4 linked regions of the Homo sapiens genome follow. The protein of the gene in region 3 purifies or fractionates together with the protein of the main gene of each other region. This does not show direct contact. Each region holds a gene or a part of one and is shown on either strand. Other genes may lie near its edges. The genes, in order: MARCHF8, VPS51, TFRC and RAB11A.

What was found.
Region 1: the proteins of TFRC (region 3) and MARCHF8 purify together in Homo sapiens (affinity purification with western blotting; 4 studies listed by BioGRID, with this or other methods). This does not show direct contact.
Region 2: the proteins of TFRC (region 3) and VPS51 purify together in Homo sapiens (affinity purification with mass spectrometry; 2 studies listed by BioGRID and IntAct, with this or other methods). This does not show direct contact.
Region 4: the proteins of TFRC (region 3) and RAB11A purify together in Homo sapiens (affinity purification with western blotting; 2 studies listed by BioGRID and IntAct, with this or other methods). This does not show direct contact.

The regions. Positions count from the first base shown.
Region 1 is NC_000010.11:45,483,371-45,490,395, forward strand, and holds part of MARCHF8 (E3 ubiquitin-protein ligase MARCHF8), read right to left. Parts: intron 6,048-7,025; coding exon 5,997-6,047; intron 1-5,996. UniProt on the Homo sapiens protein: E3 ubiquitin-protein ligase that plays several important roles in innate immunity and adaptive immunity.
Region 2 is NC_000011.10:65,091,691-65,099,228, reverse strand, and holds the start of VPS51 (vacuolar protein sorting-associated protein 51 homolog), read right to left. Parts: upstream 3,016-7,538; 5' UTR 2,979-3,015; coding exon 2,751-2,978; intron 2,232-2,750; coding exon 2,102-2,231; intron 1-2,101. UniProt on the Homo sapiens protein: Acts as a component of the GARP complex that is involved in retrograde transport from early and late endosomes to the trans-Golgi network (TGN).
Region 3 is NC_000003.12:196,065,086-196,072,110, reverse strand, and holds part of TFRC (transferrin receptor protein 1), read left to right. Parts: coding exon 1-108; intron 109-612; coding exon 613-715; intron 716-2,542; coding exon 2,543-2,656; intron 2,657-3,980; coding exon 3,981-4,079; intron 4,080-4,453; coding exon 4,454-4,593; intron 4,594-6,510; coding exon 6,511-6,668; intron 6,669-7,025. UniProt on the Homo sapiens protein: Cellular uptake of iron occurs via receptor-mediated endocytosis of ligand-occupied transferrin receptor into specialized endosomes. Endosomal acidification leads to iron release.
Region 4 is NC_000015.10:65,879,466-65,886,490, reverse strand, and holds part of RAB11A (ras-related protein Rab-11A), read right to left. Parts: intron 6,821-7,025; coding exon 6,740-6,820; intron 1-6,739. UniProt on the Homo sapiens protein: The small GTPases Rab are key regulators of intracellular membrane trafficking, from the formation of transport vesicles to their fusion with membranes.

The sequences.
Region 1 (7,025 bases), on a different chromosome or scaffold from region 3:
AGCTGCATGAAAAACTGCTCAGCATCCCTAATCATCAGGGAATAACAGATGTTGGTGAGGATGCAGAGAAAAGGGAACTCTTATGTATTGTTGGTGGGAATGCAAATTAGTACAACCAGTATGAAAAATAGTATGGGAATTCCTCAAAAAACTAAAAATAGAACTACTATATAATCCAGCAATCTCACTACAGAGTATTTCCCCAGAGGAAAACAAATTAGTATTATCAAAGAGATATCTGTACTCCCATGTTTATTGTAGCACTGTTCGCAAAAGATATGGAATCAGCCTAAGTGTCCACATCAATGGACAAACAGGTAAAGAATTCGTGACACATATACACAATGAAATACTATTCAGCCATACAAAAAGAATGAAATCATGTCATCTGCAGCAACATGGATGGAGGTCATTAGCCAGACACAGAAAGACAAATATTACATGTTCTCACTCACATGTGGGAGCTATAAAAATTTGATCTCATGGAGGTAGAAAGTAGAATTATAGGTACTAGAGGCTGGGAAGGGTGTGCATGGAGGCAGGAGTGGGGGATAAAGAGAGATTGGTTAATGGGTACAAAAATACAGTTAGATAGTCACAATAAGTTCTAATGTTCAATAACAACAGAGTAGGGTGACTACAGTTAACAATATATTATATACTTCAAAATAACTAGAAGAGAGGTTTAAATTGTTTCTGACACATAGACATGATAAATATTCACAGTGAGGGACACCCCAAATACCCTGACTTGATCATTACATAGTCTATGCATGTAACAAAATATCAGAGGTACCCCATAAATATGTACAAATAAACTAAAAAAAGAAAACCAATCAAATGTGATTTCAGATACTACACAATGATATAAAACTTTGAGTTTGTTCTTTAGAAAATGATTAAGCAAACAGCAGCAAGGGAAGTACATAGGGTGAGGACTGAGTGTGGATGGGGCATCTGGGGAACATCCTCCAGGATGGCTCGTGGGCCCACATGGTCAAGGACCCTGCGGTGAGGTGAAGGTCTGGGCAAGATGCATGGCGATTTCATGGGGGCTGCATTCCAGTGCCCGTCTTTGTATAAAGCATGTCACCTGTGGGACTCAAACTGCCTCAAACTTCTCCAAGCACCCAGTCAATTAAACAGATTTTTTTCCAAGGGGGGACATTCTGCTGCTTCTAAAAATATAAGATTTTCTACACACTGCTATCATTACAAACTGTGATAGGTGCTATGAAGAAAGAGTAACAAAACCCAAATGGGTGATAAAATTTAGACTAAGGGGAGGGTGTCAAGGGTAAGTGCCTCTAAAGAAGCTAAGAACTGAAAGAGAAATGAGTTAGGAATTTTAGCCATTCATGCAAAAAAGGGGTAAGATTGGGAGAGGCCTCTCGGACAGAACAAAAGGTGCGCAAATAGGAATTTGGCTTGTTTGAAAATCATCAAGGTAGACACCATACCTAGATCATCATGACCAAGGGGATATTGCACAGGATCAGGTTCCAAGTGGCCAGGCCCAGGTCACCTTAGATGTGACAGCTCAAGGTAGTGTAATCAGAAACACTGAAGAATTGAAAAGAGAAGCATTAGGAATTCTACTTACTGGCTACTGGGTGCTAGATGGTTTGGGATAGATTCTTGAGAAGCTACTGCAGGAGTTTAGGAGGCCTGGGCCTGGGAAGTGGCTGGGATGATGAAGAGGGATGAACCAATGGGCTGGGTATCAAGTGTCTAGCAGAACAGCATGCAAACATTGACTCAGCATGTACTGACAACCTCCAGGGCTCCATCCCATCACTGGTTCTGCAGATTTAGGGGTAAACAAAGCATGGCTCTACACTCATGAAGGTTACATGTGGGGTGAAGGTGCAATGGAAAAAAATTCATGAAAACCCAGGCAGTGATAAGTGCGATCCTGAAAAATAAAAGGAAAAGGTGACTTTGGACCCCTTAGGATGTTAATTGGAGGTGACAAATTTCATGAAATCCCTTGGTAACAGAGGCTCAACAAATGATATCCATTAACATTGTACTATCAATACAAAATAAGTATTGGGTGAAGACTTTGCCATTGTAATTGCTTAAATATCCCAATATGCTTCTTCTATTAACTCCTTAAGGGGATCAAATCCAGCTGCCCACTTTGAAGAGAGGCAAGCCACCACAGACCTAGCAGCCTCATAAACATCTCATCCAACCTACCTGCTTCCTTCTTTGAAAATGGAGCCTGGTTTTTAAAGTCAATATGCTTCCAATACACACTGAGACACTTTGTAATAAAATCTAGATGGAATACTAGGAGGCATGATTAAAGGTTTATTTTTTACCTCTTTTCAACCTCTAAATTTACGCCAGCAAGAGGTGAACTGCAGAAGCATAAAGCAGACTGCAGTGACTGGCTCATGTGCTGACCCCAGCTGGGGTCTAAAAGTCAGCAGAAAGTCTCCTGACAGAGACAACGGGGATTTCAGGTAGCATACAGTATGTCCACATTGTGGCCTCCTTTAATCTCAAGAGTATGTCTGCTATACTGAAGATACGATTTTACATGTCACGGCCTAAAACTGGCTTCAAACAGCAGGTTCATTTAATAAATACTCCAATAAAAAAACTGTCTTCTCAAAAACAGTTATCTTCCACAGGGGGCCTGCCCTCCCTTCCTTGGTCCCACTGAACTGGTTCATGTCTAACCACCTTATACAGCATGCTAACTATCTTCGTTACAAAAGGGTACACTTTGCAACAGAATTTCACGTTGACAGGTTAACCAGGAAGTTCTGTGAGTAATCAAATGTTCTAAAGGCTCACTCCACTCAGATACTCTCCAATGACCATAGTAAGCATCCCGGAACTCACTGGACACACTAAGTGTCCAGTCGCAAACAGCACACAGTAAAAATGTATTCAAGAAGGGGCCGGGCACGGTGGCTCACGCCTGTAATCCTAGCACTTTGGGAGGCCAAGGCGGGTGGATCAGGAGGTCAGGAGTTTGAGGCCAGCCTGATCAACATAGTGAAACCCTGTCTCTACTAAAAATACAAAAATTAGCTGGGCGTGGTGGCACGCACCTGTAATCCCAGCTACTCAGGAGGCTGAGGCAGGAGAATTGCTTAAATCCAGGAGGCGGAGGTTGCAGTGAGCCAAGATTGCACCACGGCACTCCAGCCTGGGCTACGGAGCGAGACTCTGTCTAAAAAAAAATGTATGCAAGAAGGAAAAAATAATGTATGGTTCTCCATTGTTCAGCAATAAATAATAAAGCTACCATTAAATGAACTGTCCTGGCCCAATCAACCTAAGGTCACCAGGATTCAACGAACTTTGACAAGAGTCAGGTTTGTTGGCTCAGTGTAATGGGTGAGCTGCCCCATGGTTCCATGCAAATGTTAATCCCAAGACTCGGAACAACCCTGAAGGTTGTATTATTACCCTACTTTTTTTTTTTTTTTTTTTTTTGAGACGGAGTTTTGCTCTTGTTGCCTAAGCTGGAGTGCAATGGTGTGATCTTAGCTCACTGCAACCTCCGCCTCCCAGGTTCAAGCGATTCTCCTGCCTCAGCCTCCCAAGCAGCTGGGACTGCAGGTGTGCACCACCACGCCTGGCTATTTTTTTGGAATTTTAGTAAAGATGGGGTTTCATCATGTTGGCCAGGCTGGTCTCAAACTCCTGACCTCAGGTGATCCGCCCGCTTCAGCCTCCCAAATTGCTGCGATTACAGGTGTGAGCCACCACGCCTGGCTTACCCTACTTTTACTGATAACTAAATTAAAGCTCAGAGAGATGTCCTTTTTCAAAATCACATGGCTAGTAAACCATCATCCATGTTAATTCCAAAACCCTTACAAAGCTCAAAATACCCACAACCCAAGCCAGGACAATAGCCTTTCCTCTAGACTTTTTAAGATGGTGGTTTGCAAACAGTTTTTTTTAACTATAGGAAGAAGTTTCCTTTAAATAAAATGTGACTGAAATCCATGAATGAACAGGTACATATTTAAAGCATAGGATGTCCTCCTTCAGAACTGCCCTTGGCTACTAGGGCAAGGCGACATACATGTGTTACTGAGCGTTTTTTAACACATTTAATTCAACTTAAGCAAACAGGCCATCTGCAGCTGCACCTTCTCACTTTTCTCCGTGCTTAGACACTGATTAGCTCCTTTAAAAGGTGCAAAAATGGGCAGCAATGGTTTACCACTGCATAGTTCTAGCACTGCAGCATTCCTGGCCAAAGGGACAGCAAAAGAAAAGAAATGGAGGTTGGATGGGAAAAAATATTTTGTGAAAGGCATTCCTATTTTTAACGCAAAATTAAGCGGAAGAATAATATAATTAGATTACAAATATGCCTAAGAACAGACAAATGTCTTAAGAAGGTTTGCCAGAGTTTACTTTTAGTCTTAAAAAAATAAGGTGACCTGAATGAAAACATATATGTAGTCAGCACATTAAAATGGCATATAATGTAACTGTTCATTTCAGAGTATCTAGGAGGCCTGAGACAGCAGATAGACTTTGTCACTTGTTCAAATCCTCCCAGCTGAATCTGTGGTGTGTTTGGCCATATGCCAAAAACATGGGGAAAAGGTCCACCCTTACAAAGAACTTTCATGGCCTTAACTGTATGGCGAAGGGGTTGGCCAGAGTCAATGTGTGGGCTGAGAGAGGAGCACTGCCTGGAAGCAAGCTCACTGCATCAGATACACTCTGCTGGTTCCCAGGCCATACCCTAGCAGCCAGTGTGCTCCTGGTGCGCTAAAAAGACCACACCACAGGTGAGGAGATGCTGTTGGATGGCTGATTCACTTCCCAAGCCCTCCTTTCCCTAGCTGCCTTCCAGCTAGAGGTGGCCTGTGATCCAGTTCTGGCCAGGGAGATGTAAGCAGATTTCAGGCGGCCAGGTGGGACTTGTGGGACAACTTTTGCCTTCCTGCTGAAAATGGTGACTCTCAGCTAACAGACCTGTTAATCCTTGATCAGTCCTCTAATTCCTGCCAAGGCCACAACCGCAATGCCTGAAGGTCCAGCTCTCATCGTGAGACCATGTGTCAAGTAGGAGATAGCACAGAGAGGAAAGAGCCTGGGTCCCTGGCAACATCTGTTACAGGGAGCCGAAGACCCATGGGACGTGACCAACTCAGCATTCCCCTGGAGACTATATGATCAAACAGCAAACCGTTCATCATGAATGCAGGATATGAGCAAACTCACGACTGCTCCGGCCGACTGCTCCTGCCAACAGAAGGTTTGCTGGAGGCAATCACTCCCTGGCGCCAAGGTTCTCTACTGCAACATCTAGAACCTTTTGTTCAAGGAATGCAGTCTTGCAAGCCTACTCTAGACTGAGCAGCTGACCCCTTCTTCCACCCGCCTTCTCACTATCTCTTTTGCCTAATAAATATGGAGGGCTGTGTAAAGCTCAGGGCCCTTGTCCACTAGAGCCAAGATGCCTCCTTCTTCCAAATATACTCTTTTGTCTCTTGTCTTTTATTCCCGCCTTCACCCCTTGTTCAGTTCCCCTAGGTCCATGCGGGTTACACAGTGGCACCCCGAACAGCCACAGAATCGGGTGCACTACAATCTGTGATCAACTCTGCCCTGGATCACCTGCTTCCAGACACCTTGTCAAATGAACCATATAAATCCATAATTATGTAAGTCATCATAGTTAGCTTTCTGTTACTTTCAGTCAAATATATTCCTAATTGTGGCAACAGACTCTCCTGTGCCTGAGATTTCTTCTGCCTTAAAGTATATGGTTTTCTGGAAAAAATGGAATTTTCTCCCAGAAGTCACTTCCCCCAACACACACTCAAAATTGCCTTACCAGAAAAATGTAACTGCCACATACCTCTTATGGTCCCAGAACAGATTACAGAAATGTATCAAGAACTCTAACGTCTTTTCAAAAAAAAAAAAAAGAGTATAAACACATGTAAGGCATAAGAACAGAAAAGACTCAAGGTAATAAATAACATTTTTCAGTGGCACTCTACCTTAGAAATGTTGCTTGAATGACTCATGAAATGTCCCAAAGTCTTCTCATTCTGCAAGAAAATCAAACAGGTTTTAATTATCAATCTTTGATTAAAATATGCAAAGAACAAGTAATTGATCACAACAACCCTACTGACAAATCATTCCCTGAACTAGAATTTGCAAAGCACAACCTACTATATACTAGATGTATGTAGCCAGGCAGTAAATATTGCACATTTGGGCAAAATGAATACACAATAGTCCCTGTCCTAAAGGATTTAACATTTTATTTAAGAGATTTAATTTTTTATTATCAGGAAAAAATAAGAGTTTAGAATTCACTGTCAAAATAAGATGGTAATAAGTGTCTTAAGTCACATTTCACGTGAAAGTTCAGATGGTGATAAGTGTCTTAAGACACATTTCAAGTGGAGAGGCTGCATGCTCAGTTGTATGTGACACAGTCCACATTATGAGGAGTCACGGCGAAAGAGTGAAGAAAGTAGGACAGCTGACCAGTCCTGGGGTGTCTGGCTAACAAAGTGCTGAATACTCAATCGGGATATCACACAGCTCACATCTCCTTCAACTCAGTTTCTCCTCCTGGAGCAGGGAAATCTGGGAGCCATGCCAGCCTCCTTCCTCTCATGCCCCTCCACATTCAGTCACATAGTCTTGTATCAAATTCTTCCTCCTCTCAATCACAACTCATTTTCATTTTTATTGACAATGCTTTAGTTTAGATTCTCTTCATTTCTCAGCTAGAATTCTTGAAGAATAACATCCCACCTGGCCTTTTTGCCTTTAGGTTGACCTCCCTGATACACAACTATCATGGGCTAAACTGTGTATTCCCCTCCCTTCTGTGAAAATTTAGATGTTGATGTCCTAAACTCCTTCTTCCTCAGAATATAACTATTTGGAATAGGGACTTTAAAGATGTAATTAAGTTTACATGAGGTCAATAGTAGTCCCGGCTACTCAGGAGGTGACTCTAATCCTAGTGGACTCTAATCCAATAGGATTGGTGTCCTTGTAATAAGAGG
Region 2 (7,538 bases), on a different chromosome or scaffold from region 3:
CTCTCTCTCTTGCCCAATCAACACACACTCCATGCTACATTACTTTCCTGAGTGTCTCGCCCAAGTCTATCAAATCTATGTCTTGAAACACCTTCCTCACGCAACCTCCACCTCCTGGGTTCAAGCAATTCTCCTGCCTCAGCCTCATGAGTAGCTTGGACTACAGGCATGCACCACCTTGCCCAGCTAATTTTTGTATTTTTAGTAGAGACAGGGTTTCACCATGTTGGCCAGGCTGGTCTTGAACTCCTAGCCTCAAGTGATCCACCCACCTCAGCCTCCCAAAGTGCTGGGATCACGGGTGAGAACCCCATGCCCGGCCCCTCACTTAAGCTTCTAAGACATCAATGCTCCTGGTTATCCTCACACTTTTCCAAACGTTTGTTCCTTTTGTGGGATGTACAAAAAGAGCTAAGTCTCAAAATATTATTATACACATTCCAACAAATGGAAAATGTAATCTTATTAAATTCCTGTGAGAAATATCCCAGCACAGAAACTATGATTTCTTGCCATTTTGATGCTGGTATTAGCTAACAGAAAGGTGCCTACTCATGGAATCTGCTTCAAATCAGATAAAAGAACAATGTGTATAGGTTACCACACCCACCACTGTGACACGAGAGTAAGACATCAGAATGCAACCCCACAGATGCTCCCAGAACATTCCACAGGCTGCAGGTAAACCCTTTGGATCTGGCTCCTGGACTTACTACACGTGGGTGTACAATTACTACAAAAGTCTGAGTAGTACATCTCCTCAAAACAGCACAGAAGCTAGTGTGGAAAACAGTGGAACACTGTCTGGCACTAGAGAATAAAGAGGACAGAAGAAAAAAAAAGCCTCGACATGATCTTTGTGTCCCCTAATATCATACATCTTCTCTCTTTGCTTAGTTAAGGAGGGAAGGAAGGGAGAAAGAAAGGGAGGGACAAGACCACCTATTCTTCCCTGGAGCAGAAAAGAAAGCTATCAATAATAAGAGAAACTACACCTTACTGAGGTTTCCTTGATGTCAGGGATTCTTCTTCTTATTATTTTTTTTTTCAGACAGAGTCTTGCTCTGCTGCCTAGGCTGGAGTGCAGTGACGTGATCTTGGCTCACCGCAGCCTCCACCTCCCAGGTTCAAGTGATTCTCCCACTCAGCCTCCTGAGTAGCTGGGATTACAGGTGCCTGCCACCACACCCAGCTAATTTTTTTATTTTTAGTAGAGATGGGGTTTCACCATATTGGCCAGGCTGGTCTCGAACTCCTGACCTCAGGTGATCCACCTGCCTCGGCCTCCCAAAGTGCTGGGATTACAGGCATGAGCCACTGTGCCCAGCCTAGTGTCTGGGATGCTTCTTCAGATAGATACTTTCTTTTTTTTGAGACAGGGTCTTGCTCTGTTGCCCAAGTTGAAGTGAAGTGGTACAAGCACAGCTCACTGCAGCCTCGACCTCCCAGGCTCATGTGATCCTCCCTCCTCAGTCTCCTGAGTAGCTGGGACTACAGGCATACGCCATCTTGTCCAGCTAATTTTTATTTTTTATTTTTTTGTAGAGATGGAGTCCCACTATATTTCCCAGGTCAATCTTAAACTCTTAGGCTCAAGTGATCCTCCCACTTCAGCCTCCCAAAGTGCTGGGATTACAGGCATGAGCCACCATGCCTGGCCTTTTAAGTGCTTCAGATAAATACATTTCATTTTAAAATTTCATTTTGGGCTGGGCCAGGGACTCACACCCGTAATCCCAGTGCTTTGGTAGGATCCAGAAGGATCACATGAGCCTGGGATGTCGAGGCTGCAGTGAGCCATGATCATGCTACTGCCCTCCAGCCTGGGAGACAGAACAAGACATTGTCTCTAAAAAATAAACAACTAATCTCCTTTTGTCTTTTCTCTCCTTTGGTACTTAAGACAACCCTCTGAGAGTAGCTATTATCTCTATAGTAGTCTGACAACGAAGGCTCAAAGGAAAGGAGGTGAGAATGGAATAATGTCAGGACAAGACTGGAATCTGAGTCTCCCCCCTCTAAATCCCTTGCTGGTTTTCCCAACACAGGTGGGAGAATGGGGGCTGTGAGACTTTGGAGGGTGTGTCCCCGTGGGGATCACCTGTGGCTGAGATGAACTTGTTGTAGTTCTCATAGACCAGGGTCTGCATGTCGCTGTCTAGAGCCCGGATCTGCCGCACCATGTCCGTCTCACTGTCCATCAACTGGGCCAGAGGGCACTCTCTACGCAGCTGAAGAAGTTGGGTGGTTAGTGTTCGGGTCAGGAGGCATTCATGTCCCCCAGCCTTGCCTGCAGCTGATAGGCTTTCAGGGCAAGAAATCTCTGATCCCCACCCACCCCGCAAACCCCCGCCGGCTGTCAGGAATCCCAGGCAGGGGGCCCTAAGTGGCCTAGCTCAGGGGTTACTAGGTTCAACCGTGTTTGGTGTTTGTCAGCATTTGAAATCCTGGGGCTCGGCCTAAGCCCAGCCCCGCGCCTGTCAACGCTTGGGCCACGCCCCCAATTCCGGGCCTATCACATCAGCCCAGAAGACCTCAGATGCCGCATCACCTCAGGCCAGTCCAGTCCTACTCACATCCCCTCAGACGCCTCAGCTGCTCGTACTCCCTGGCCGAGGTTCGTCCTCTTATGAACACCTGCTCTCCTGAACCTCACAAAAAGTCGGAGGCATGATCTGGGGGAGCAATATAGCAGGGGCCTGGTTCCCTTCCCCCCTCCCCGCACCCCCCCACTCCCCGTGCGCACACACCTTGTCTAGGTAAACTTCCGGGTCGAAGTGCGCCCCGTTCAGATCAGTCGGGTCCAGGGGGTCGGGCCCCGCGGGGCGTCCCGCCGCCTCCCCTTCCGAGAGGCCGTAGTAAAGCTTCAGCATCCCGTGCGCCTTCCGCCGACGCTCCGGAGCCTCCCCCTCGGGCCCTTCTGGGGAGTCCCCAGGTCCAGACCCCGGGCTAGGCCCGGCGGCAGCTGCCGCCGCCATCGTTCCAACTGCAGCCCACGGGCGTGAGGCTGGAAAGGAAGGGGACGGGGAGGAGGCACTTCCGGGAGCCATAAAGTTGTTGTTGAAACGAGGCAGTCCTTCAGGTGAAACGTCCCCCTGCAGCCCTAGGTCCTTCGAGACTAGAGTTCCCCCGCACCTGTCTTCCCCGGGTGCAAAGGTTCCGGGAGAGCCCTGAATTCCCCCAGTTTCCTGGGTGGAAGCATTTTGTGGAACTGCCTGGGGTTGCTGCTGTCCCAGAAGGGGGACGGGTAGTGGCTCCCCAACCTGCACTCTCGCAGGCAAGGGGCCCACGGAATATGTGCCCAGATGCAATGGACGGATGCGGGACGTGAGGCCAGAGTAGAGTGTTCCTGGGATCCTGCCACTGGCAGTGGCTCAGTTTATCCCATTCCTAAAATTGGGGTACATACTTCACAGGGGGGCTACGAGGATTAAATGCATGTACACTATTCTGTACCACGCCTCTAGCGCAGTTCTTCTTAGGGCCTGGTCCTCTGACGTGCATCAGAATTGCCTTCAGGACTATCTGTGGCGCATTGTAAGTCTCTGCGCTGAGCTGCGCCGGGCACTCCCGTAATCCCAGCACTGGGGAGGTCGAGGCGGGTGGATCGCTTGAGCCCAGGAGTTCGAGACCAGCCTGGGCAAAATGGCGAAACTCCGTCTCTATAAAAAAAAAATACAGGCCAGGCGCGGTGGCACACGCCTGTAATCCCAGCACTTAGGGAGGCCGGGGGGGTGGGGGCGCGGATCACAAGGTCAGGAGTTGGAGACCAGCCTGGCCAATATGGTGAAACACCCGTCTCTACTAAAAATACAAAAATTAGCCGGGTGTGGTAGCGCGCGCCTGTAGTCCCAGCTACTCGGAGACTGAGGCAGAAGAATCGCTTGAACCCGGTAGGCAGAGGTTGCAGTGAGCCTAGATCTCGCCACTGCACTCCAGCCTGGATGACAGAGCGAGACTCTGTCTCAAAAAAAACAAAACAAAAATTAGCCAGGATGATGGCGCACGCCTGTGGTCCCAGCTACTCGGGAGGCTGAGGTGGGGGAACTGCTTGAGCTGCGATGGTGCCACTGCACTCCAGCCTGGGCAACAAAGCAAGAAAAAAAAAAAAAGACTCTGGGATTCTCTCAGATCTAGCTTCTTTTTAGAAAGTTCCCAAGTAGTTCTGATACACACTCACATTTAAGAACCCCTAAGGCCGGGCACAGTGGCTCACGCCTGTAATCCCAGCACTTTGGAAGGCAGAGGTGGGAGAATTGATTGAGCCCAGGAGGTCAATACTGGCCTGGACAACGTAGTGAGACCCGCCCCCTATTATTGAAAAAAAAAGGACAGACTCAGCAGAGCTTAAGTGACTGATGGAATGTGCTGAGTGAAGGGTTAGGTGGAAATGTGGAGGATAACTCTCAGGGTTCTCTTTTCCTTTTTTTTTGAGACTGGGTTTTGCTCTTCATCCAGGCTGGAGTGCAGTGGTGCTATCTTTGGCTCACTCCAACCTTGACCTCCCCTCCCACCTCAGCCTCCTGAGCTGCTCTCCCAGGGTTCTGACTTGGACAAAAGTGCAGCTGTGCACAAAGGTGAAGAGCTCATGAAGACAGGGAACGATCTGGAGTTCAGATTAGGACACAGAGTTGGAATGGAGGAAAAAGAGAAAAAGACTTTCTTCATCAAAGTGGCCCTTGAAACATTACTTATGAAGGGCTGTTGGAGGAAGGTTGGAATGGAAAAACTCACTGGTTTACTTGTTCTTTGCCAGGGATCCTGCAGGCCAAACACAGCTCACCACCTGTTTTCATATGGTCTGTGAGCTAGAATGGTTTTCTCATTTGTAAATGGTTGGGAAAAAAATAACATTTCATGACACCTGAAAATCATATGCAATTCATATCCCATTTTCCGTAACTCTTATTGGAACACAGTCACGCCCATTTTTTAACATATGATCTATGGCTGCTTAGTTGAGGCTAGGCACGGTGGCTCATGCCTGTAATCCCAGCACTTTGGGAGGCCAAAGCAGGCAGATTACCCGAGGTCAGGAGTTCGAGACCAGCCTGGCTAACATGGTGAAACCCCATCTCTACTAAAAATACAAAAACTTAGCCGGGCCTGGTGGCGGGCGCCTGTAGTCCCAGCTACTTGGGAGGCTGAGGCAGGAGAATCGCTTGAACCCAGGAGGCAGAGGTTGCAGTGAGTCAAGATCATGCCATTGCACTCCAGCCTGGGTGACAAGAGCAAAACTCCATCTCAAAAACAAACAAAAAAAAACCCCAAACAAACAACAACAAAAAAAACACAGAGCAGAGTTGAGTAGCTACCACAGAGACTGCATGGTCCTCCAAACCTAAAATATTTACTATTTTACGGGAAAAGTTTGCTGACCTCTGAATCAATGGGATGTCTAGAAACCATTTAAAATACTTGATTTCAGCCTATGAAGCTATAATCTTAAGAAAATGAAAAAGGGTATAGATTGAGGTCTACTCCAAGAAGTCTATAAACATTTTTAAAAGTTGGAGAATAGTGTTAAGACAAATCATCCAGGCAGGGCGTGGTGGCTTACGCCTATAATCTCAGCAATTTGGGAGGCCAAGGTGGGCATATCACCTGAGGTTGGGAGTCCAAGACCAGCCTGACCAACATGGAGAAACCCAGTCTCTACTAAAAATACAAAATTAGGCTGGGCGCAGTGACTCACGCCTGTAATCCCAGCACTTTGGGAGGCCAAGGTGGGTGGATCACCTGAGGTCGGGAGTTCGAGACCAGCCTGACCAACATGGAGAAACCCCCGTCTCTACTAAAAATACAAGATTAGCTGGGCTTGGTGGCGCATGCCTGTAATCCCAGCTACTCGGGAGGCTAAGGCAGGAGAATTGCTTGAACCCGGGAGGCCGAGGTTGCGGTGAGCTGAGATTGTGGCATTGCACTCCAGCCTGGGCAACAAGAGCAAAACTCCGTCTCAAAAAAAAAAAAAAAAAAAAAAAGGAAAAATCCAAAAATTGGAAGTCCAAGAGTGTAGTGTGTCCTCTCATTGTCACACTGGGGCATCGTTTCAGAAGCCCTCCCAAGGATTATTTACCCACAAGAATACACAGTTGTTTGATTTTGCTATTCACTAGTAAGGTAAATAGACTGAAATTACAAGGAGATATTGTCCAGGAGAGATGAAAGACATGTATATCCAGTAGAAAAACTAACCTCAAAGGGTATAATTTTTGTCATGTAGGACATCCATTGCATTTTGCATCTAACCTAGTAATCATATGCTAACATTCTTCTTTATTGTATTTTATTTTATTTGAGACTTGCTCTGTCACCCAGGCTGAAGTACAATGGCGCGATCTCAGCTCACTGCAACCTCTGCCTCCTAGGTTCAAGTGATTCTCCTGCCTCAGCCTCCCGAGTAGCTGAGATTACAGGTGCACACCACCATGCCCAGCTAGTTTTTTTGTATTTTTAGTAGAGACAGGGTTTCACTATGTTAGCCAGGCTGGTCTCGAACTCCTGACCTCAGGTGATCCGCCCACCTCGGCCTCCCAAAGTGCTAGGATTACAGGCATGAGCCACTGCACCTGGCCTAACGTTCCTCTTTAAATGCTCGTCCTGTCCAGTTCCTCATGTGCATTACCACCTTACCAAGCGGAAATCCCCTCACTGATGAGTTAAAGATCTTTTTTTTTTTTTTTTTTTTTTTGAGACAAGGTCTCACTATGCCCCCAGGCCGGACTGCAAAGATGCAAGCAGGGCTCGAATTCCTGGGCTCAAATGACCCTCCCGCCTCAGCCTCCCAAGTAGGGGGTACTACAGGCAAGGGCCACCACAACCAGCTAATTTTATTTTTTTTTAATTTTTAGTAGTGAGGAGGTTTCACTATGTTGCCCAGGCTGGTCTCAAACTCCTGAGCTCAAGTGATCCTCTCAGGCTCACTTTGGGAGCTCAGCCTCCCAAAGTGCTGGGATTACAGGCATGAGCCACCGCACCCGGCCTAATAAATCTTTGTTACGTGTTCATTCTATATTTAGACGTAGGTTTTAACTTTTTGAAAAGTACACTTTGACAAAACATATGATTTTTAAAAATGCTTTAAACTTATGCATGTATATGTACATCTAGATGTATGAAGTTACCGTTACATAAAGAAGGGACCTAAAAGATGCCAAGTCACCAAACTGGGGAAGGGGGTACTTCAGTGGTGGGGATGCAGCAGGGAGACTGTTACATTTTCCTCTGCATGCTTGTGTATTATGCAAATATTTTACAAGAACATATTCATATATACATACATACATATATGTGTGTGTATATATATATATATATATTTTTTTTTTTTTTTTTTTCTTGAGATGGAGTTTTGATCTTGTTGCCCAGGCTGCAGTGCAATGGCACAATCTCGGCTCACCGCAACCTCCACCTCCTAGGTTCAAGCGATTCTCCTGCCTCAGCCTCCCGAGTAGCTGGGATTACAGGCATGCGCCTCCATGCCCGGCTAATTTTGTTTTTGTTCTTGTTTTTTTTTGAGACACAGTCTTGGTCTGTCGCCC
Region 3 (7,025 bases):
TCAAAAAGATGAAAATCTTGCGTTGTATGTTGAAAATCAATTTCGTGAATTTAAACTCAGCAAAGTCTGGCGTGATCAACATTTTGTTAAGATTCAGGTCAAAGACAGGTATGTTGAAAGATGGTAAACTTATTTTTATACAAGTAGCTATTTTCAGGTGTGCTAAATATAGCAAAGACTTTTTGTTAGTGTTGTTGGCTTTTTTTTGAAATGGAGTCTCGCTCTGTTGCCCAGGCTGGAGTGCAGTGGCACAATCTCTGCTCACTGCAGCCTTTGCCTTCTGGGTTCAAGTGATTCTCCTGCCTTAGCCTCCAGAGCAGCTGGGATTACAGGCGCACGCCACCACGCCCAGCTAATTTTTGTATTTTTAGTAGAGGTGGGATGGTCTCGAACTTTTGACCTCAGGTGATCAGCCCGCCTGGGCCTCCCAAAGTGCTGGGATTACAGGCGTGAGCCACCGCATGCGGCCCAAAGGCTTTTAAAATAAAAATCAAGCTTAAGATTTAGAGGTAAATTTCCTCAAGCCAAATAATGCAAGACATACTAAATGTAAGCTATTGTGTTTTTTGGAAGGATGACCTTAGGCTTATTTTAACTTAATCTTTTTAACAGCGCTCAAAACTCGGTGATCATAGTTGATAAGAACGGTAGACTTGTTTACCTGGTGGAGAATCCTGGGGGTTATGTGGCGTATAGTAAGGCTGCAACAGTTACTGTAAGTAAAGCAAAACAGTGCATGAGACTCTTCCCTATTGAATCATTCAAAACTCATCTTTTCTGTTCTTAGGAGTTATAAATTTACCTGTAAAATGTAAATGATCATGAGATATTTTGGTTTTCAACCCTCTAATGACACAGTCAACATGCATTGTCTTCTCTCTCTAATCACTTTCCCCATGTCCTGTTTTATTTTTTCTTTATAGTACTGCTAGCAGCTGACATTATCTATGCCTTTGTTTCCATTAGAATGTGAGCCAGATGAAGAATCATGGGTTAGTTCTATTTACTGCCATGTTGCAGAGCTTTGGAGAATGCCTGACATACATAGTAGTATTTGCTAAACAAATGCATATCCTCCCTGTGGGGACAGATGTAAATATCCATCTTGGCTGGGGCCTAGTCTTAGCTTGATTCGTTAATGCTTGATCTTTTTCTATTTTTGTTTTGAGACAGGGTGTCACTCTGTTGCCCTAGCTGGAGTGCAGTGGCGTGAGCTTGGCTCACTGCATTCTCCACCACCACCCAGGCTCAAGTGAGCCTCTTGAGTAGCTGAGATGTCCAGTTAATTTTTATTTTTTATTTTATTATTATTATTATTATTATTATTATTATTATTTGGTAGAGACAGGGTTTTGCCATGTTGGCCAGGCTGGTCTTCAATTGAAACTCCTGGGCTCAGGTGATTCACCACCCTCAGCCTCCCAAAGTGCTGGGATTACAGGAGGAAGCTGCTTCGCCCAGCCCTTGATCTTTTTAAATTTAGGCAAATATAGTCAAATTAACACAGAAATAGAGAACAGATAGATAGAATAATTTTCAGCTTAAAAATCACATTTGTGGCTGGGCGTGGTGGCTCACGCCTGTAATCCCAGCACTTTGGGAGTCCAAGGTGGGTGGATCACCTAAGGTCAGAGCTACCAGCCTGGCCAACATGGTGAACTCTATTAAAAATACAAAAATTAGCCAGGCGTGGTGGTGGGTGCCTGTAATCCCAGCTACTTGGGAGGCTGGGGCAGGAGAATCGCTTGAAGCCAGGAGGTGGAGGTTGCAGTGAGCGGATATTGCGCCATTGCACTCCAGCCTGAGCAACAAAAGCGAAATTCCATCTCAAAAAAAAAAAAAAAATCACATTTGTAAGTCAGGCGTATCTCTAGTGGATACCTTTCGGGGCTGGTGCAGTTCTGTGTTGATTCCTTGCCTTTCTGGATACTTGTGCTTTATCCCTTTGCCTGGCTGCCTATAAGCCAGGAGTTTAGAGATGGGTAGGTTGTTCTGTTAAAGAACATTGAAGATTTTTGTTCAACTTCAAGCTTTCTGTATTGAGGGCTTGGTTGTTAGTGTCAGTTTATGGCTGTTCATCTGGACTCTTATGAGCTTAGGAACATCATGACACATCTAAAGTTGGTGTATGCAAGTCACTTTGTTGTAATAGATGGTGTTTTAATTTTGGGACAGATTTATTATCAGACCTTTCAGTTAAAACCTATTTCTATGATGTCCTCAAGGCTAAGATTGTTCCAGGCCTCCAGTCCCATGACCAGCCTACATAGGCCTCTTTAATCTAAATGCCCTTCAGATGAAAGGCAGCATGGGATAAAAGCATGAAAGACATAGGAGGCCAAAAATCTTGATTTTATTCCAATAGCTCTGACCTAAAAGTTGTAAAGTTTTTTAGAACTCATGTCTTTTTTAGGCCTTGGCCTCCTTTTATCTCTTACTTGGGTTGCCTGTCTTAGGTTTGATCTATAACACTCTTCTGTCTCAAGATTTTAGAGCTGTTCCGATACCATAATGCTCATTAAATCTAATGTCTTTGTTCTAGGGTAAACTGGTCCATGCTAATTTTGGTACTAAAAAAGATTTTGAGGATTTATACACTCCTGTGAATGGATCTATAGTGATTGTCAGAGCAGGGAAAATCACCTTTGCAGAAAAGGTGAGTATGAGTTATTATAATATTAAATACAGTACTTTTGGTATCTTACTCTTCAGGTAAGTGATATTTCTTGTTAATATTCTTACATTCTGAAAATCAGCAATCTTAAACTCTCATACCAGATAATATAATTTATTAAAATGCTCAACAAATGAAGTAAGTTCCACTTACCTAATCAGAAGTGCTTAAGTGAAAGCTATTTCTCTGTATAACTCAGTTTTACGCATATACAGAATTCAGCTAAAAGCATGTTTTATAAAAAGGAAAATTAATAGCCAAACATACACAAGGAACTAGAGTGGAACATATCAAAAGACAGTGGTGATTTCTGCATTTTTAAAAAAAGTGGCAGGGCTCACACCTGTAATCCCAACACTTTAGGAGGCTGAGGTGGGAGGACTGCTTGAGCCCTGGAGGTTGTGAGATGTGACTCGTGCCACTCCAGCCTGAGTGACAGTGAGACTCAAAAAAGTGGTTGTCTTAGATGGGTTTTTGTTATTTTTCTTTTCTTTTTTTTTTTTTTTTTTGAGACGGAGTCTCTTGTCACCCTGGCTGGAGTGCAGTGGCGTGATCTCAGCTCACTGCAACCTCCGCCTCCCAGGTTCAAGTGATGCTCCTGCCTCAGCCTTCTGAGTAGCTGGGATTACAGGTGCCCACCACCACCATGCCTGGCTAATTTTTGCATTTTTAGTAGAGACAGGGTTTCACGACGTTGGCCTGGCTGGTCTTGAACTCCTGACGTCAGGTGATCCACCTGCCTTGGCCTCCCAGATTGCTGGGATTACAGGTGTGAGCCACCACTCCTGGCCTTTGTTATTCTTTTTTTTTTTTTTTTTTTTTTTTTGAGAGGGAGTTTTGCTCTTTTGTCCAGGCTGGAGTGCAGTGGCGCAATTTTGGCTCACTGCAACCTCTGCCTTATGGTTTCAAGCGATTCTCCTGCCTCAGCTTCCCAAATAGCTGGGAATACAGGCGCCAGCCACTGCGCCCAGTTAATTTTTGTATTTTTAGTAGAGACAGGGTTTCACCATGTTGGCCAGGCTGGTCTCGAACTCCTGAGCTTGTGATCCCCCTGCCTCAGCCTTGCAAGGTGTTGGGATTACAGGCGTGAGCCACCACTCCTGGCCCGTTACTCTTATTTTGCAAACAAGTGAGTTAATTTTTCAGGAAGCAATTAATAAATTACCAGATAAACAATTTGAAATATTTGGAAGTATTATAAGTTTAGTCCTCTGTAACCATTTGGCCTTTAGCATAATGTCCAGGATGTATTCTCATTTCGTATGATCAGATCTTCATTTTCTGAGCTTTATATGTTTTCTTTTAGGTTGCAAATGCTGAAAGCTTAAATGCAATTGGTGTGTTGATATACATGGACCAGACTAAATTTCCCATTGTTAACGCAGAACTTTCATTCTTTGGACATGTGAGTTATTTCTTGAGTAAATCACCGTTTTGAGTTCCTTGAGTTGTTCTTGGATTCCTGTATTAGCAGAAATAGCACTGTGTCTTCCTTAACTGCTCTTTTTTCTGGGAGGGCGTTAGCAGTAAGCAAGAAGATAGATTACATTGACTTTGAGGCTTTATTATTTGTTGCTAAAAGTACTTTGTCAATAGTGCCTTGAATTTGAGAATTTCCATATGCCATGAAAACAGGAGTCACATTGTAGAGCCACTCAGATTTTTGAGGCTTCAAGTTGGTAAACTAAGGTTGGGCTGCAGCCTTATACCAAACCTGAATCTTACAGAGAAGTTTTGAGGAAGTATGTGATGGAGTGAATTGCTCTTTTGTTTTCCTAGGCTCATCTGGGGACAGGTGACCCTTACACACCTGGATTCCCTTCCTTCAATCACACTCAGTTTCCACCATCTCGGTCATCAGGATTGCCTAATATACCTGTCCAGACAATCTCCAGAGCTGCTGCAGAAAAGCTGTTTGGGTAAGTTTTTATTTGAAAGCGGTCTTGCATAGTGAGGTTTTATGATTAGGGAAGAACGGTAATATGTTGATTAAAATGTTAAACATGATGATAATTTTCCACATTTGGGAATTTGGAGGATGGTTAGCTGTTACCTTGGTACAGATATAAATGAATTTTTCTCTATAAAGAGATCTTAATAATGGACTTTGGACTTATAAACACAGGAGAATAAGGAGACTTATAAACCCAGTGAATTCCTTGTGCAAGATTCCTGGCATAGCTTCTGCTCAAGTACTTCTGTGCTGAAGCACGATGCCTATAGCAGCCCATTCAGTTAGTAGAGAGAATCTGTTAGAATTCATATTGGGATAAAATCCTATTCCCCGAAACATCCATTTGTCTGGATTTTTCTTCTAAGCAATACGGTATGATTCCAGTTACCTTGTCTATAGATTGAGAAGCCTTGCTTCTTATGATGGTTTCCAGAGAAACCATTTATGGTTGTGGCTCGCTCCTCTGGATATCCTCCCTGTAACGTTAGTGTCTCTCTTTAAAAACAGAGCCCAGTTCCATTAGAGTACGTAGCATTAATTTTGATTTGGATGTGGACATATTTATCATTTCCTGTTATTACAGGATGGAGATCTAGTTTCAGGCCTTTATGAAAGCATTTATCTCCTGTATGACATAGGTTCTCTGATCCTGTTTCTTTAACATAATTGGATAGTGAAAATATATTCTACTTGATAGTCTCAAATGAAGAACATCTGTATATAAGGAGTATATGAAATACCATGACTGTTGATCATGCTGAGAGGCCTTTAGCATAGGGGAGTGTGTAACATACCATGACTATTGATAACGCTAAGAGGCATTTAGCATAGGTGATTTTTTTGACTCATTCTACCTACCACCTACAAATCGTAACCAACCTGTGAAGCCAGCGTCCCATCTTATCCTTATGTAGTAGGGGAGTAATAATGTTTCAACCTATATTTATGTAAGTAAGCCCCCTTAGGAGCAGCTATTATTTGGGTAACACAGAGGAATTAGATAGGGGAAGCACAAGATTTTTTTTTTATTTTGACAGTCTCACTCTGTTGCCCAGGCAGGAGTGCAGTGGCATGATCCTGGCTCACTGCAACCTCCACCTCCTGGGTTCAAGGAATTCTGCCTCGGCCTTCCAAAGTGCTGGGATTACAGGCGTGAGCCACCGCACCCAGCTGAGGAATATTTTTTATAACTGAGCTAAGAATGTGTACTATCCTTGTTAGTGGTGACAGTTGGGAAACATAAAAGTGTATTAATATTCTTTTATATATTAGAAGAACTTCATTTTGAGTCCATCTTGGTATGTATTCCAAATATAAACTACGTAAGTATGTCTGGCAGAAAGGCGCATAGTTAGAGAAGTGTTTTAAAATATTGCTTAATTAATGGTTTCCAATTGGCTGCCTGCAGATCAAAGTAAGACGCAAATGGTTCACCACTAGAGAGTAAGTTTTTTTTTGTTTTTATTTTGTTTTGTTTTGTTTTGTTTTTTTTTGAGACAGGACTTGTGCTCTGTTGCCCAGGCTGGAGTGCAGTGGCGTGATCTCGGCTCACTGCAGCCTCCGCCTCCCAGGTTCAAGCGATTCTCCTCCTCATCCTCCTTAGTAGCTGGGATTACAGGCGCATGCCACCATGCCCAGTTAATTTTTGTATTTTTAGTAGAGTCGGGGTTTCACCATGTCGGTCAGGCTGGTCTTGAACTCCTGACCTTGTGATCCACCTGCCTCAGCCTCCCAAAGTGCTGGGATTACAGGGGTGAGCCACTTCGCCGGGCTGAGAGTAAGTTTTGTTTATATGTCCTCTTAATCTGTAACTTCACTGGACAGGAGTAAACCCTGGGCAAGGAACAATAACTCAGAACTTACGCCTGCTTTCTGATTCTAGGAATATGGAAGGAGACTGTCCCTCTGACTGGAAAACAGACTCTACATGTAGGATGGTAACCTCAGAAAGCAAGAATGTGAAGCTCACTGTGAGCAATGTGCTGAAAGAGATAAAAATTCTTAACATCTTTGGAGTTATTAAAGGCTTTGTAGAACCAGGTAAAGACCGCCCCCCCCCCCCCCCGCCCCGCTTTTTTTTTGTTTTCTTTTCTGTTCCTAAGGATGTGGCTAGAGAAGGAGCGAGTGTAGGAATGCTGGCTTGGCTTGGTTTTATGAAGTGCTCAATCTTGTCTGTCCTAAAGTTAATTGTTTATGTGTTAGTTTCTTTTTTTTTTTTTTGAGAAAGAGTTTCACTCTTGTTGCCCAGGCTGGAGTGCAGTGGTGTGATCTCGGCTCACTGCAATTTCCGCCTCCCAGGTTCAAGCCATTCTCCTGCCTCAGCCTCCCCAGTAGCTGGGATTACAGGCATGCGCCACCACGCCTGGCTAATTTTGTATTTTTAGTAGAGACAGGGTT
Region 4 (7,025 bases), on a different chromosome or scaffold from region 3:
CCTAATACGATGTACTAGGAAAGACACAATGTATTCCTATAAAGGACACCATGTATTCCTGACAAAAATATTTAAAACTAATTTAATCATGAGGAAATAATGAGATAAATCCAGACTGAGATGGGGATAAATGTTCTAAATTTGTGCTATCCAAGAGAGTAGCCATCTATTTTAATTAAATAAAATTTAAAATCCAATTCCTCATCTAACTAGCCACATTTCAAGTGCTCAATAGTAACCTGTGGCTACTTTATTCAACATCCCAGATACAAAACAATTCCATCTGTTAAGGCTCAGAAACCCATACTCCAAAATGGCGTTTTGATATGCTGAACTAAAGAAGCCTCAAGGTCTCTCTGACCTTCTCCCCCTCATCCTCTCTCCCTGGCACAGGATGAAGCTGAAGTTCCTTCATCTGCCTGAGATCCAGACCCACTAAAAGGGACAATTGTTTTTTCTTCCCCTCCCTGTAAGATCAAGAATGTAACCACACTTAAACAGACTCTTTCACGAGATAATGTACCAATTAATTTCTGTCCACTGATCCGTTCATCCTCCCCAGTAATCCCCTCAACAGAATTCCTTTTCTCCTCCTTCCCATAACCTGTTTTGCCAGAATGGCATAAGCCTCTGAATGCCATTGGGAGGTGGGTCATCTCTCTGGTTCTCCCCAGAGAAAACCAGTGTACAGTGTACATGTTAATAAATTTCGTATGCCTTTTCTCCAATTAAAATGCCTTTTGTGAGTTGATTTTCCAGCAAACTTTCAGAGGTTTCTATTTAGATCTCCTACAAGAGAAATCTAAATGATATAAAAATGATAAAGCAGGATTCTTTTTCTTCCTAACCTCTACCTATCGTTTGGACCTCGTGAAAGGTCCAAAGCTGTATCAGATAGCTTTCAGCAAACCTTCAGAGGGCAATAGGGACACTTCCCTTGGCTCCTATACATGTGATCTTTAAATGGATCTTGAATTTTTTAATTAAAAAACAAATCTACAAAGGACATTATTAGTATACTGAAGAAATATGAATATGGATTGCACATTAAAAACTGTATAAATGGGCCAAGCGAGGTGGCTCACGCCTGTAATCCCAGCACTTTAGGAGTCCAAGGCGGGCGGATCACGAGGTCAGGAGATCAAGACCATCTTGGCAAACATGGTGAAACCCCGTCTCTACTAAAAATACAAAAAAAAAATTAGCCAGGTGGGGTGGCACCCGCCTGTAGTCTCAGCTACTTGGGAAGCTGAGGCAGGAGAATCGCTTGTCCCGGAGGGGAGGTTGTAGTGAGATAGCACCACTGCACTCCAGCCTGGGCAACAGAGCACACTGTCTCAAAAAAAAAAAAAAAAAACTGTATAAATGTTAAATTTCTTGGATACGACATATGGTATTGTGATTATGTAGGAGAATGCCTTTTTTTTTGAGACAGAGTCTCACTCAGTGAGCAGTGAGGTTGAGACTGCACCACTGCACTCCAGCCTGGGGACAGTGTGAGACCCTGTCTCCAAAAAAAAAAAAAAACGGTGGGGGCGACTGCATAGGAATTGGTATATTCATTTGGTTCTAAAGGAGAACATGCCTTTGAAAGAAGGAAATAGATCTAGTTTAGCATACCCCCCCACCCCCACAAAACTCCCAATGAAATAACCTTCTCTAATCAGACAGCTAGAAGTTACCTGCTTCCTACTTTCTTATCAGGTTTTTGGTTTGGTTTTTTTTTTTTTTTAATGACACACCCAGCCACAAGAGACTTAAGTATGTAAATTACTTGTGGAACCTCTTAAAGCCAATCACTCTTTATTGCTTTGGTGGCATTTTTATTAGCAGACATCCTTTTTGGTAACTGGAGTAAGTGCAGCAGTAATCTATTTCTAAAAAACAGTATGCTGTACTTGTAACACACCAACACTGCTCAAATTTCTTGCTTTGTAATGAGATCTCTTTAATTATTTACTTCTCTATGTTCTTTGAGAAGTCTGCCTTTCCCTCTCTTCCAGTTTTACATATATTTGTTTTTTATGTAAGAACTTTTCTTTGTTTTGGTTCCCCTAATTTAATCTTCAAAACAATTTATAAGGAAGTTAAAACTTACAGTGGGTTACATATTTCATCTTAATTTACACACATAATTTACACTTGAAAAAGAAGAGCCTCCCAGTTTGAGACTAGAGGGAAAGCTTAAAGATGCAAGTTAATTATCTTTATTCCTTAGCCACTCATCTGATTGAATGACTGAAAGGTAAATCCTTTTCTTTAGCCTTGGCACCCTCCCATCCCATCCTTTTTCATTGAAACAAAATCTAAATAAAGATTCCATATCCTTTTTTTTTTTAATTTTAATTTTAGTAGCCTGTCTTTATTGAATCCTAGTTGTCTTTCCTTAATGCCTCTTCACATTTGAACCACTGTCAACCTTCTCAGACATAAATTTTAGCCACTCCCCTTCCCCCACAAAAGAATCTAAGAAAAGATACACTTGCTGTCTGTTTTTGTTAGTTTACATATTCAGTTGACTACAGCTTACTGTTTTTCAACTTCTGAGAAATTAGTTCTTAATTTTGGAAAATGTAGTAATTCAGTTAATACATCTCTAACTTTTTTTTTATGGAAATTTTCTGACATACCAAAAGCAGAATAAGGCCAGGGGCGGTGGCTCACACCTGTAATCTCAGCACTTTAGGAGGCCAGGCGAATCACGTGAGGCCAGGAGTTAGAGACCAGCCTGGCCAACATGGTAAAACCGGTCTCTACTTAAAATACAAAATTAGAGAGCATGGTGGCTCAGGCCTATGATCCCAGCTACCCGGGAGGCTGAGACACGAGAATTGCTTGAACCTAGGAGGCAGAGTCTTGCCTGGCAGAACAAGACTCAGGGGAAAAAAAAAAGAATTTAGTGTTCATGCTAAAAAGATATCCTGGACATATTAATTACATGGAGAAACCTAGCAGACATCACCTTAACCAAGTGGTCAAAGTTAACATCACTAGTAATTAATAGGACATCCAATTATCACAAACCTGCTGATATGATGCACTGAGAACACTTCTGTGGTGTTCCTGCCAAAAGTGTATAACTTGAGTTTAATCATGAGGAAAGAAATCAGAAAAGCCCAAAATGAGGTACACAACAAAATAACTGGACTGTACCCTTCAAAAATGTCAAGGTCAATAAACAAAAGATTGAGGAACTGTTCGAGATTAGAGGAGACTAAAGAGATATGACTGCTGAATGAAACGCATGACCTGATCTTGGACTTTCTTTGGCTAATAAGGGTATTATTGGAACAACTGGCAAAATCTGAATAAGGTCTGTAATTAAACACTGATGTGGCACTATTATCTAACTCTCTGATTTTGATAATTATACTGTGGCTATAAAAGAGAATATCCTTGTTTTTACAAAATATACACTGAAAAGTACTCAAGGATGAGGGTCATCATGTCTGCCACTTAATCTCACATGGTGCCGAAAAAATATGTATATATTTAGAGCGAAGAGAAAGAAAAGGACAAAGCAGATGTGGTAAAATATTAACATCTGAGGAATATGGGTGAAGGATATTTGCAAATTCTTTTTACTATTATTTCAACCTCTTTAAATTTGAAATTGTCAAAATGCAAAGTTAAAATAAAAAAGTAAAAGGTATGTATTAAAAACATCCTTTAGTGAACCTGAGAAAAGACAAAGCTGTACTGAAATTCAGAGGCGGAGCAATCTACCAGTCTCACTCTCATACTAGTAAACTACCTCTAAAAAAATACCATCAGCAAAATCATCTCATGGAGTCACTTTCAAATTCATGGGTGTCAAGAATGCCATGGGTCTATTCTGAAACCAACAACACAATTAACTCTGAAGTAACAATGTAAATTTTCTGATATATAATTTTACAACTTAAAATTTTTGGCCAGGCATGGTGGCTCATGCCTATAATCCCAGCACTTTGGGAGGCCAAGGCAAGCAGATGGCTTGAGCTCAGGAATTCAAGACCAGACTGGGCTCCATCTCAATTTTTAGAAATTTTAAAGCTATTTTTTCTTTCAGCAATATCAAAACACAACGTAAATACTCCCTTAAGACTGTTAACATTTAAGGTAGAATCAAGTGCAATAAAGAGTCTGTCCTCTTCACTGTTTTCTCTATGCATTCACACTTCCACTGGCATACAGGAGGAAGAAAGTTTAGAACAAACATCCTAACACCTGCAGAACAACACAGATGTCTGCTGCCACATGCAGTGATCTCTGATCCTACAGACCAACAGTGAGATTTATGCAGGAAGCTGAGGAAACAGTGAATATAGAAAGGAAAAGTGGTAGCAAGTGAAACTAAAGTCTTCTTTGCTTTCAAGCAACAATTAAGCTGTAACAAAAGTTCAATCTAGAGTGAATTTTAAGAAAAGCAACTATATGTTCATCTTTTTTTTTCTTTTTGAGACAGGATCTCACTCTGCCCACAAGGCTGGAGTGCAGTGGCATGATCTCGGCTCATTGCAGCCTAAACCTCCCAGGCTCAAGCAATCCTCCCACCTCAGCTGGGACTACAGGCGCACACACTACCATGCCTGGCTAATTTTTTTGTGTTTTTTTTTTTTTTTTTTTTTTTTAGAGACAGGGTTTTACCATGTTGCCCAGGCTGGTCTTGAACTTTTGAGATCACTGCATGTGGCAGCAGACATCTGTGTTGTTCTACAGGTGTTAGGATGTTTGAGCTCAAGCGATCCGCCTGCCTCAGCCTCCCAAAATGCTGGGATTACAGGCGTGCATCAACATGCCCAGCTCTTAAAGGGCTCAATTTTAAGTACCGACTAGTTCATGTTTGAGTGGATCAGAAGCTCAATGTTACAAAATGATGCATAAAATAGTTAACTGCAGATGGAAGACTTGGGCTCATCTTCACTTAATATCAGAATAAATGGGCCAGAATTACAGCAGAGGAGATTTGATGGAACATAAAAAATATTCCAACAATGAGGACTGTCTAAAAAGTTTTTTCAGATGAGACTTTCTGAGGCCTTAAAATGCTCACACATCTTTAAGGTAATTTAATTCACATGTTTTAAGACTATGACTCTGAGGAGCAGGGAGGTTCAGTGACTTTAGTTAAACGGGGAGTAGAAGCAAAGTGATAAAAATGTAATGCCCTAGAACTCCTGGGTCTCAATCTAGTACTCTACATGTTGACTTAATAAAATGTACACAAATGGCTATAAAGAAAACAAGGACTTGCAGACATACTACATATTTAATCAAATCTTGCTTGCTTAAAACAATCTGCAGTGAAACTTTGACAGAGAACATTCTAAAGGAAAGCTACTGTGTTCCAAAGACTGCTTATCCAACCCCAGCACTATTCTTCTGATAACAGAAAAGAATTATAATAAAATAGGTACATAAATCTCCAATTTTCTCATGCCTTAATTGCCGTTCAGCTACTAATTTGCCAACTGTTCTCTATATACCAGGGATAGATAAGTAATTTACAGTATTCAAAATGGGTACTTTACAGGTACTCATTTTTGAAGTCTAGGGCAGTGACAGACCATTCTTTGCTAAGGGTTACTGAGACAAAAAACCTTTAGGTCACAAAAGTCAAGTCAAATCCTATCACAAGATTTTATAAATATAAGCCTTCTCTCAAAAAAGAAATAACAAAACTCCTCAAAATATATATGAATTTTATAGATGGAGAAATTAAGGCCTAAAAGGGTTAGGTAACTTGCCTAAGATTGTACAACTAACAGTAAGTGGAGGAGCCAGGACTAGAACCCAAGTCAGGCTTCCAAATCTTAACTCCTTGACTTTACGCTTACATTTTTACAGTAAAAGAAGATAACATGTTAAAGTTAAAATCTGTTAATCTCTAATACAGGGGCTGCATACAAACAATAAATCAAAACTTGTTACATTATAATTGGAAACTCAATCATATCTCTGTATAGACTTTTTAGAACAATGCCACGTAAAACTATACTATATATTAAGACCACATTTTAAATCATGAGTTCTTAAAAGTAACATACAATTTAAAAGTATTTAAAAACAACCCATCAAAGTACTAATTAGAAGATTAAGACTAATCTTACTAATAAATCTGGTTATTCTAATAGTTTCAGGATAAATATGAGTGAACACTTCTTATCTCAGAGGCTGACCTGGTCATTCACATTCCAAAACAGCATGAACTCCATCTCTTTCCAACTACTTTTTAAAACTTTTCTATATGCAATCATTGGCTGATTTTATCTACCAATTATCTCCCATGATACAATATAGAATACGCAAGGGATACCCTTCTTCTGTATCATGGGAGAATTTTATTTTGTCGCTATAATTTTTAAAAATGTTTTTTCCCTAGCTTTGCCTTTACTAAATTTAAAAAAGGGCATTTATATCTTTCTATAGCTGGGATCTCAATATTTACCTCATAAAAGTACATTTAAACATTACTTTGTGACCATGAAGAATGGAATACCTGGACTGAAGTAATAATGGAAGTGAATGAATTATTTTCAAAGTATTTTTCCCACTATAAATCAGATGAATTAGGACAACTGAAGCTCAGTGAGCAAGGGTTGTAGTTAATTTTGCACTCTAAACAGCTTTTGCTAGAGTAGCTCTCAAATGATAGTCACTCTCGGCTGATATATAGTTTAGTTACTGATTAGTTTGTTTAAATTACCTTCCTAAAACTTCTAGTCCTACTGGTGTAATCTGAAAATACAAGTCTTACCTGTTAAAATTGTCTGAAAAGCAGCTTCTACATTTGTAGAGTCTAGGGCCGAAGTTTCAATGAATGACAAACCATTCTTTTCTGAGGGGAGACACAAAAGTTCAGTCTTGTTAAGTTTTAAAACAAGGAATAGGATATACTCAAGCCCTCAAAAGGAAAAATAACAGAACTTTTTAAAACTTAAGACCTCCTCAACTTCTGGGACAGTAAGGGCACCATTCTGTTTACACTTTATTTATTTACTTACTTTATTTACTTCTTTATATAAGTAGAGATGCAGGTCTCA